Regions from separate parts of the Homo sapiens genome. Here region 1 is linked to region 2. Evidence: fine-mapped expression QTL. A gene starts in region 2. The other region holds a variant in brackets. All regions are shown on one strand. Distances are between the middles of the regions.

Region 1 (5,379 bases), 100 kb before region 2:
CACCTGTAATCCCAGCTACTCCGGAGGCTGAGGCAGGAGAATCATTTGAACCCGGGAAGTGGAGGTTGCAGTGAGTCGAGATTGTGTCATTGCACTCCAGCCTGGGCAACAAGAGCAAAACTCTGTCTCGGAAAAAAAAAAAAATCATGCTAATTATTTAAATTCTTAATTTTTCTTTACATAGAATGACAAATAAGAGCAAATAAAAAGCCCCATCATAGGAAGGACTATGGAAGAAAGGAAAAAGCTTTATAGTTCACTACTCTTCACAGCACTTTTCTTGCTGCTTTTTTCAGAAGAGGTTGCATTTTCACTTTGCACTAGACCCGACAATTTATGTAGCTGATGCTGGTACCAGAAGGTAAGATCAGTTTCCTGGGGTACATTTTTGGTATAGTGGTTAAGGCTTTTTTCTCAAACTTCCCAGTGGGAGTTTAAGTCTTGGTTTTGTCCTTCATTTTTCTTCCTTCCCACTATTAAGCTCCTGTTGCTGTGGCCATCAAGATTTTCTATTGTTCTGGGGCTCAAGCAGACAAGGAACCCAAGAACACCCAGGCCACACCTTCCACCCAGGAGTCCAGCTGGGCCCTATGCCCAAATGATTGCTTTTTCTCTTTGCCCACTCCATCAAGGGTGACAGCTTCTTCCTAGTCAATTCTTTGCCATGGTCTCACTCCCCGCCTTCCTCAATCCAGAATCTGAGCAGGAAACGAATCTGGTCAAAGCACGTGGTTGGATTTTCGTGACCCAGTGCTTCCAAAAGGCCAAACCTCACCTCTGCTCCACCTGCCCCCACTCTTGGATCCAGCAGCCTCACACTTCCCAGGCCTCTGCCCTGACATCTGCCTCCCTAGAAGGATGAAGAGCAGTAGCGCCTGGAATTCCAACCATCTGCCACAGTCTTGCATGGCACAGGTGAGTTTTGTGGGAGATGGGGTGGGGTGGAGAGTAGACAACGTTTCTGGCATTTTCACAAATGGCCACTCTGATGCTGGCCTCTCGCTCTGTCCTGCCAGCAAAGGGTCAGACTAGGTGGTGGCCTGGGAGCAAATGGGGCATGAGCAATCAATGCTTCCTACCTATCTGGGCCCAGTGTAAAAGTGGGCAGTTAGAGGAGATGTTGTTGACTTTAGATTCATCTCCTTCCTCATTAGCATAGTTGGTGAGTATTCCCTTCTGTCCTGACAGATCTGGATTTGATCCCCCTGCCATTTAACTAATTTGTTACCACTTCACTTTTGTTTATACATTTTATTTCCTGGCTTACAATTAACCAATTCGTTACCATATAGATATATGGTTTTTATTTTACAAAAAAATCTAAACGGATTATGAGTTTACAAGCTCAGTAAAGTATTGGCTGGCTCTGGACTTCCCTAATAAGCCACATTAAACACCTGGTGACAGCTGCCAATGCAAAGGTCAAGGGCTGCTAATACCGGACTGCCTAGAACTCCATGATTTTAACTACTTTCAGGATTTCAAAGTGGGGGAAAGTTTTATTAATTACTAATACTATGACTGTGCTAATCCACCCATTCTAGATTTAGAATATTCCTGAGAGACTGCATGTTTCCGTGGCAAAATTAAACGTACTCAGGAGGCCAAGGCAGGAGGATCGCTTGACCCCAGGAGTTTGAGAGCAGACTGGGTAGCATAGCATAACATCTCTTAAAAAAAGAAAAAGAAGAAGAAATAGAGAAAAAATTAAACACAAGTATACATTAGTGATTCTCAACATGGGTGGGCCTAGTCCCCTTAAGGAGCATTTCAGAATTCCTCAGTGGACATCAGCCTTCGCGCAGCCTCCCTACCCATCAGGTGCTGATGAGGTTAGCAACCAGATGTTTGGCCTCCCCATTTGCTTCCCTTGAGAATTGTGGCTAGCGATATTAGGAGCTCACTACCATTCTTAATTTACCCCTTTGAGTAAACGATCAACATTTTTCTTTTAAACATGTATTTCAGGCCGGGTGCAGTGGCTCATGCCTGTAATCCCAGCACTTTGGGAGGCTGAGGCAGGCAGATCACTTGAGGTCAGGAGTTCCAGACCAGCTTGGCCAACATGGTGAAACCCCATCTCCACTAAAAATACAAAAATTAGCCAGGCATGGTGGTGCATGCCTGTAATCCCAGCTACTTGGGAGGCTGAGGCAGGAAAATCACTTGAACCCGGGAGGCAGAGGTTGCAGTTAGCTGAGATC[A/G]TGCCACTGCACCCCAGCCTGGGTGACAGAGCAAGACTCTGCCTCAAAAAATAAACAAATAAATAAATAAATATATATATATATATATGTATGTATGTATGTATGTATTTCAGAAAGAAGAAATGATACTGGACTACAGAAGCATTACTGAGATGCTGTGGTCATCAGGCCAAGGGTCGTGGATGGGAATCTGTGGGGAGGCATTCCCCCATGCCCACAGTCCCCTCACTCTTTAGCCAGAGTATTGTTAGGTTTGGTTCTTGACCAAGGTCTCAGGCTCAACTCGTGTGTGTGCTTCAATATGGGTTGGTTCCTTCCTCCCTTCCTTCCTTCCTACCTCCCTCCCTCCCTTCTCTTTCTTTCTGTATTGAGGCCAGAGTCTCACTCATTGCCCAGGCTGGAGTGCAATGGTGTGATCTCGGCTCACTGCAACCTGCGCCTCCCGGGTTCAAGCGATTCTTCTGCCTGAGCCTCCAGAGTAGCTGGGATTACAGGCACCCACCACCACGCCCGGCTAATTTTGTATTTTAGTAGAGACAGGGTTTCACCATGTTGGTCAGGTTGGTCTCAAACTCCTGACCTCAGCTGATTCACTCGCCTCAGCCTCCCAAAGTGCTGGGATTACAGGTGTGAGTCACAGTGCCCAGCCTATTGATCTGTCTTTGAATTCACTAATCTTGTCTCCTGCTGTGTCCAATTTGCTGTTAAACCCATTCAGAGGGTTCTGTTCTAGAAGTTTTTGTCTCTATTCCAATTCTCTGTTGAAATTCTTCTCATCTACTTTCCATCTTTTCCTCTATTTTTTAAAAATAAAATTGTGATTATTTTAAAGTTCTTGCCTGTGAACTTAAACAATTGGCTTATATTTGTTTCTGCTTCTACTGTTTTCTTTTTTCTCTTGACCATTGGTCACATTTTCCTTTCTCTTCACATGTCTCCTAATTTTTATTGTATGCTGAACATTATGTAAAAAATAACTAGAGGCCAGGCTGGTGGCTCACACCTGTAATCCCAGCACTTTGGGAGGCCGAGGTGGGCAGATCATTTAAGGTCAGAAGTTCAAGACCAGCCTGGCCAACATGGTGAAACATGGTGAAACTTCATCTCTACTAAAAGTACAAAAATTAGCTGGGCATGGTGTCTTGTGCCTGTAATCCCAGCTATTCAGGAGGCTGAAGCAGGAGAATCACTTGAACCTCAGAAGTGGAGGTTGCAGTGAGCCAATATCATGCCACTGCACTCCAGCCTGGGCGACAGAGTGAGACTGTCTAAAAAAAAAAAAAAAAAAAAAAAAAAAAAAAAAATATATATATATATATATATATATATATAGAGAGAGAGAGAGAGAGAGAGAGAGAGAGAGAGAGAGAATATACATATATATACACCCAGCCTGGGTGACAGAGTGAGACTCTGTCTCAAAAAAAAAAGCTTTATATATATATATATATATATATATATATATATATATATATATATATAAAGCTTTTTTATATATAAAAAATATATTTTTATATATAATATAAAATTATATATATAAAATATATTTATATACATAAAAGCTTTTTTATATATATATATAAAGCTTTTTTTTTTTTTTGAGACAGAGTCTCGCTCTGTCACCCAGGCTAGAGTGCAGTGGCGCCATCTTGGCTTACTGCAAGCTCCGCCTCCCGGGTTCACGCCATTCTCCTGCCTCAGCCTCCAGAGTAGCTGGGACTACAGGTGCCCACCACCACACCCGGCTAATTTTTTGTATTTTTAGTAGAGACGGGGTTTCACCATGTTAGCCAGGATGGTCTCGATCTCCTGACCTCATGATCCGCCCGCCTCTGCCTTCCAAAGTGCTGGGATTACAGGCGTGAGCCACCACGCCCAGCCAAAAAAGCATATTTTTCTCTTTTTCTTTTCTTTTTTTTTTTTGAGAAGGATTCTCACTCTGTCGCCCAGGCTGGAGTGCAGGGGCACAATCTCGGCTCACTGCAACCTTCGCCTCCCGGGTTCAAATGATTCTCCTGCCTCAAACTCCTGAGTAGCTGGGACTACAAGCATGAGCCACCACGCCCAGCTAACTTTTGTATTTTTTAGTAGAGATGGGGTTTCACCGCGTTGGCCAGCCTGGTCTCGAACTCCTGACCTCAAGTGATCCACTCGCCTTGGCCTCCCAAAGTGCTGGGATTACAAGGGTGAGCCACCATGCCCGGCCAAAATACATGTTTTTCTTGAGTTGTCTTTGTCTCATGGATTTGTAGGAGTAGTTTTGATATTATGTTGTGAATATCTTCACCCCAGTCAGTCCTCTTCTATTTCTCCCAAAAGGTATTGTATACTTTCACTTTTTTTCCCTCTTATCACTCACGGGCACACAAAATTGATTCAATCATCTCCCTCAGTTTATTGCACTTTATTTATTTATGTATTATTTATTTATTTTGAGATGGAGTCTCACTCTGTCACTCAAGCTGGAGTGCAAGGGCATGATCTTGGTTCACTGCAACCTCTGCTTCCCAGGTTCAAGCGATTCTCCTGCCTCGGCCTCCTGAGTAGTGGGGACTACAGGCATGCGCCGTCATGCCTGGCTAATTTTTGTATTTTTAGTAGAGACAGGATTTTTCCACGTTGGCCAGGCTGGTCTCAAACTCCTGACCTCAAGAGATCCACCCTTCTCAGCCTCCCAAAGTGCTGGGATTACAGGCATGAGCCACCCCGCCCAGCCCTATTGCTCATTATAATCATTGATTGGGTAAGATCCCTGTTCTGTTATATTGTCTCATTATTTTCTCCTCATCTCCCATTCTTACACCAATTCCTCTCCCCTACAATGCACCCAGTTTTGTATATTTAGTCTGTTTTTTAAATATACATATTATTTCTAAAAATATTAGGCCAGGCACGGTGGCTCATGCCTGTAATCCCAGCACTTTGGGAGGCCCAGGCAGGTGGATCACCTGAGGTCAGGAGTTCAAGACCAGCTTGGCCAACATCGTGAAACCCCGTCTCTACAAAAATACAAAAAAATTAGCCAGGCATGAAGGCAAGTGCCTGTAATCCCAACTACTCAGGAGGCTGAGGTGGGAGTATCGCTTGAACTCAGGAGGGGGAGGTTGCAGTGAGCCAAGATTGTGCCACTGTACTCCAGCCTGGGTGACAGAGACTCCACCTCAAAAAAAAAAAA
Region 2 (5,379 bases):
GAGACCCCCAAAAAAAGAACAAAAAGAAAAGTTTAACCAATATTTCTCTTAAGTGGGCCCAAGTTATTGCCGTTTGCAACACAAATGAGGAAACCAAAATCATGGAATCAATGACCTTGACTTGTCCAAAATAAATGTAGAACCAGAAATCAGCTCCTAGGATTTCTCAGAAGGTATTTTCCTTTGAGGTTAAATCAGCACATTATAAACAGTTCCAAATCCCTCTAGTGAAATGGAATTAGACTGGGAACTTCTATCAAGAAAAAAAAAATTTTTAATTCCTCATTTATCCTCCTAAAAAAATCCCTTATGAGAAATGGAGGTGTCCTTTCCACGAGAGCTTCAGATTACCACTAATGAAAAATATACCTTTCTTGGCATTGAATCCTAGTGTGGACTATGGGGAAAAGAAAGAGAGATCAGATTGTTAAGGTGTCCGTATAGAAAGCAGACATAAGAGACTCCATTTTAATCTGTAACCCTACCTCCAACCCTGTGCTCCCTTAGACATGTGCTGTGTCAACTCAGGGTTAAATGGATTAAGGGCTGTGCAAGATGTGCTTTGTTAAACAAATGCTTGAAGGCAGCATGCTCATTAAGAGTCGTCACCACTCCCTAATCTCAAGTACCCAGGGACACAAAACACTGCGGTAGGCCGCAAGGACCTCCGCCTAGGAAAGCCAGGTATTGTCCAAGGTTTCTCCCCATGTGATAGTCTGAAATATGGCCTCGTGGGAAGGGAAAGACCTGACCGTCCCCCAGACCCCCGTAAAGGGTCTGTGCTGAAGAGGATTAGCAAAAGAGGAAGGAACGCCTCTTTGCAGTTGAGACAAGAGGAAGGCATCTGTCTCCTGATCATCCCTGGGCAATGGAATGTCTCGGTGTAAAACCCGATTGTATATTCCATCTACTGAGATAGGGGAAAACCGCCTTAGGGCTGGAGATGGGACATGTGGGCAGCAATACTGCTCTTCAAGGCATTGAGATGTTTATGTGTATACGTATCTAAAGCACACCACTTAATTCTTTACCTTATGATGCAGAGACCTTTGTCCTTCTCTCCACTATTATCCTATGACCCTGCCACATCCCCCTCTCCGAGAAACACCCAATAATGATCAATAAATACTAAGGGAACTCAGAGGCCGGCGGGGATCCTCTGTATGCTGAACGCCGGTTCCCTGGGCCCCCTTTTTTCTTTCTCTATACTTTGTCTGTGTCTCTTTCTTTTCCAAGTCTCTCGTTCCACCTAACGAGAAACACCCACAGGTGTGGAGGGGCGACCCATCCCTTCAGTGGACAGCGCTGCACAACTCAAAATGATACTGTATGGATACACTTAATGACTATAATGATCCTCAGCTTTTAAACACTAATTCCAAAACTCCTAAAATGAACTGTTTGGAACCAATATGATCACTTCAAACTAAATGTTAATTTTACCAAAAGCCCCTAACATCGATACCAAAATATATCAGAGAATTCAAAAGCATTCAATTATGGTCAAACCATCTGGAATAAAGAAGACAGCACTGGCAAGACAAGCCTTGGCATACCTTAGACAGAAGATACATATGGAGATGAAAAACAGGGAGAAAATGAAGGATTAAGATAACCCTGATTTCAACTCCAAGAGGAATCATTTTGTCACAGAAAAACTAAACAAAGTCCCTCTATTTTTAAACTGGGTGACTGAAGTGGAAAGAGAAATGAGAACACATTTGGGGAAATCAGGGATTGAAATCTCAACAGCATTGAAGCTAACTTTCCATAACAAACAATTTCCAAAAATAAGGCTGGCACAAAACTATGCTGGGATTTGTACCAGGCGTGTCTAAAGGCGCTAGTCGCTGTGACTAGAGAGGCTGAGCAGAGAATGAGACCTAGACAGCGGAAAGTTCAGAATGAAAGAAAATCTAGGGTATTTCTCTGGACAACTAATTCACATTTTAGAGAAAAACTGGGACACTCACTCTCCCTCCCAAGTAAAATGATTAACTAAAAATGAATTCCCCGGGTTGCTCTGGGGCAGCAGAGGTCCGCCCTGGGTGCTAATGCTAATCGCCACCCCAGTAGGGATCCACCCTTTGCCAGCAGCCCGCTGGGAACCCAGACAGCGCCCACTCACGGTGGGAGCAGCTAGTGTCTGAAGGCATTCGAAGCAAAGGCAAAATACACGAAGATCTCTCTCTCCGAAGCTAAATGTCTAAATACGCTCTCGAAATCGTAGGACCCATGGGTGGCTGACCTTGAAGTTATTTTCTCAGAGCTCGGCTCTGGGTGCAGGCCCGAGAGCAATTTGCGTTAGAAGTACTAGAGGAGGTGGGGAAAACAGAAGGGGCGAGAGCCGAGGGCCCCTCGATACGAAGTCAGTGACCCCGAAGCCCTACGGAGCGCACCGGAGCGGCTGGGGGGGACGGGAAAAGGGGTCTCTAGGATCCCCGAGCGCTTGGCCTCCACACCCATGGGTCCTTTCCCTGCCCAGGCACAGGATAAACAGTTATCAGCAAAACGTGAGGGGCCAGTTCAGATCTCCGGAGGGCCGCAGGCACCAACTCCCAGTCCCACTGAAGTCACCTCAGCAACAGCGCAGCCATCTTGGGTTCCGGTCTGGACGGAAGTGACGCCAGGCGGCCCCGCCACCCGAGGGCGGAGGCGCGCCGGCTGGGGGTCGGGGTTGGGGGTGTCATGTGACGAGAGTCTCTTTAAAAGGCTCTGGAGCTTCTCCGCTCAGCTCTGCCTAGCTGGTTTGCTGGTTGTTTTCTGGTTTTTTAGTCTCCTCCTCCGCCTCCTGCAGCCGACTTCTACCGGAATTTGCCAGGATTTCGGCAGAAACGCCGCTGGCTCAAAATCTGCAGTCTACGTTCCACCTGCGTACATATTCATTTTGTATCGCACTCCCAAACAGCAAACGGCGGACTTGTTTAGATTCTTCCTTAAGGACTTCGCAGTCTGTTGCGTTCCCCCTGCCTCCCAGGTCGGCCTAAAAACGTGGTGGTTGGCCGGTTGAGACCCCGAAGAGAAAAGATACTTTGGGTTCCCTCCCTTTCTAATACGAAGCTTTAACCAGACAGATACATAAATTGTGACCTAAGTTGGGGAGTGTGTAGAGGGGCCTCGAGAAGACCTTGCGGACCACCATTCCCGAAAACGAGGAGCCTCATCTAACCACCTCGATTAGACCCCACAATTCCTGGGTTTGAGCTGCCACATGGACCAGGCGCCCACTAGCCGAGGACAATGCTCCCTTGTTCGTTGTTTCAGCGCTATGTGGGTGACACCCACAGCTAGAAGAACCCGGAGTGAGGGGAAGAACACGCTTTGATTTATATATGTGTATATATATATATACAGTTTTAGGGAACCCAAGCACAGGAATCAACTGCCGAGCACTCAAGACTGAAGAAAGAAGAAGAGCAAATGATAAAGGAAGGGAACAGAGCACAAAAGTTCTTGACTCTTGTGGGGAGTAGGGTGGAGAGGAGTAAAAGGGACAGGCTAGAGCAACTCCTATTTCTACAAAAAAAATACTCAATTATATTAATATTCAGATCTTATGTATATTTAGCATCCCTGCACTTCAGGATTTAAATAGCACAAATTCACTTATTTCTGCATCAGATGAATAATACTACTTTGCATTTCTATAATGCTTGACAAAGCACATTCGTACACTTTAGGATTGAAAGAGGCTCTCTAATCCAATCTACTATCTATGCAGGGATCTCCTCTGCAACACCCATAACAGCTGATCTTCAAGACTCTACCCCCCCATATTCAATGATGGGTACCTCAAACAACAAGTTTTATTTAATGAACAACTTATTCGTTAGTTATTATATTTAAATACAGTTTTGTGCTATCGAAATTCCAGTCATTGACTTGGCTCTCTGGAGCTTCACGTTAACAAACCCAAGGAATGCCTTTTTCACTCAGATCTTTTTTGGTTTTTCTTTTTCTTTTTCTTTTTCTTTTATTTTGAGACGTAGTCTCACTCTGTCGCCCAGGTTGGAGTGCAGTGGCGCTATCTCAGCTCACTGCAGCCTCTGCCTCCCAGGTTCAAGCGATTCTCCTGCCTCAGCCTCCCCCCAAGTAGCTGGGATTACAGGCCTGCACCACCATGCCCGGCTAATTTTCTGTATTTTTAGTAGAGATGGAATTTCACCATGTTGGCTAGGCTGGTCTAGAACTCCTGACCTCAAGTGATCCACCGGCCTCGGCCTCCCAAAGTCCTGGGATTATAGGTGCGAGCTACCACTCCCAGCCCACTCAGCTCTTTAAATATTAATAATTTCATTTAGCATGTAGTTATGGACTTTTTGTCAGTCCGTGAAAAGTTCTGTAGGGGATTCAAAGATACAGATGTTTGTACTGTCCCCAAGAAGGTTATAGCCTTAGCAGGATCAATAAAGACATGCAACAAAGAAAGTAGCAACAACCCATTGAAGAGGGTGTTGATAAAAGGGGTGGTTAGATAAAGAGGAAATGATTGCTTACAGTTGGGAGGTGGAGTTAGGTGGAAATTTTGGAGGGGAGAGTTTTGGGGGTTTTTTTTTTTTTGTACTTTGAATTGCTGTTTTATAGAAATGTTGACTACAACATCCTGTAAACATTTGTCAATGATGATGGTTTTGCCTATGGACTTCATAAGCAATCCCATATTTAGAATTCCACAACCCAAATCTAATACTAATGACCATACCCACCAGGGCTGTGGTCTAATGAGATGCCAGGAAGGTACCAGGACACTGTCCTTCACCTGGGTGAGCCTGCAGTGGTCTCATAGCAGGAATAACAATGACCACCCCACTTACATTAACTTCTAGAGGTCAGGCACGGTGACTCACACCTGTAATCCCAGTACTTAGGGAAGCCAAGGCAGAAGGATCACTTGAGTATAGGAGTTCAAGATCAACCTGAGCAACACAGTGAGATCCTCATCTCTACAAAAAATTGAAAAATTAGCTGGGTATGGTGGTGGCTGCCTGTGGCTCAGCTAATCTGGAGGCTGAAGTGGGAGGATCGCTTGAGCCTGGGAGGTTGAGGCTGCAGTGAGCTATCATTGCACCACTGCACTACAGCCTGGGCCACAGAGCAAGACCTTATCTCTGAAAAAAAAAAAAAAAAAATTTTAAACTAGCCCAGCATGCTGGCATGCGCCTGTAGTTCCCAGCTACTTGGAAAGCTGAGGTAGGACAATTGCTTGAGCCTCAGAGGTCAAGGCTGCAGTGAGCCATGATCATGCCACTGCATTCCAGCCTGGGCAACAGAGCGAGACTGCCTCAACAAACAAAAAAACCTCAGCTCTGGTTATGTAGACATCCCCATGGCTAACTCCACCCCAACACCTTCAGGTTCTCATGATGTACCAAATTGAAT

The links. PIP is the estimated chance that this variant, and not a neighbour inherited with it, causes the effect.
Region 1: its variant is fine-mapped to the expression of SDHC in whole blood (INTERVAL, PIP 0.97).

Annotation. Positions count from the first base shown.
Region 1 is chr1:161,415,205-161,420,583 of GRCh38, reverse strand. It overlaps the pseudogene COMMD6P1. Among named protein-coding and RNA genes, the nearest start is that of TRE-TTC4-2, 4.3 kb to the left of the region's middle. The variant A/G (reference allele first, on the strand shown) is at 2,205.
Region 2 is chr1:161,311,624-161,317,002 of GRCh38, reverse strand. SDHC (succinate dehydrogenase complex subunit C) reads right to left here and starts at 2,622. Exons shown (of 6, transcript NM_003001.5): 1 at 2,578-2,622. The coding sequence starts at 2,597. RefSeq lists enhancers at 1-756, 2,283-3,046 and silencers at 2,572-2,641, 2,672-2,731.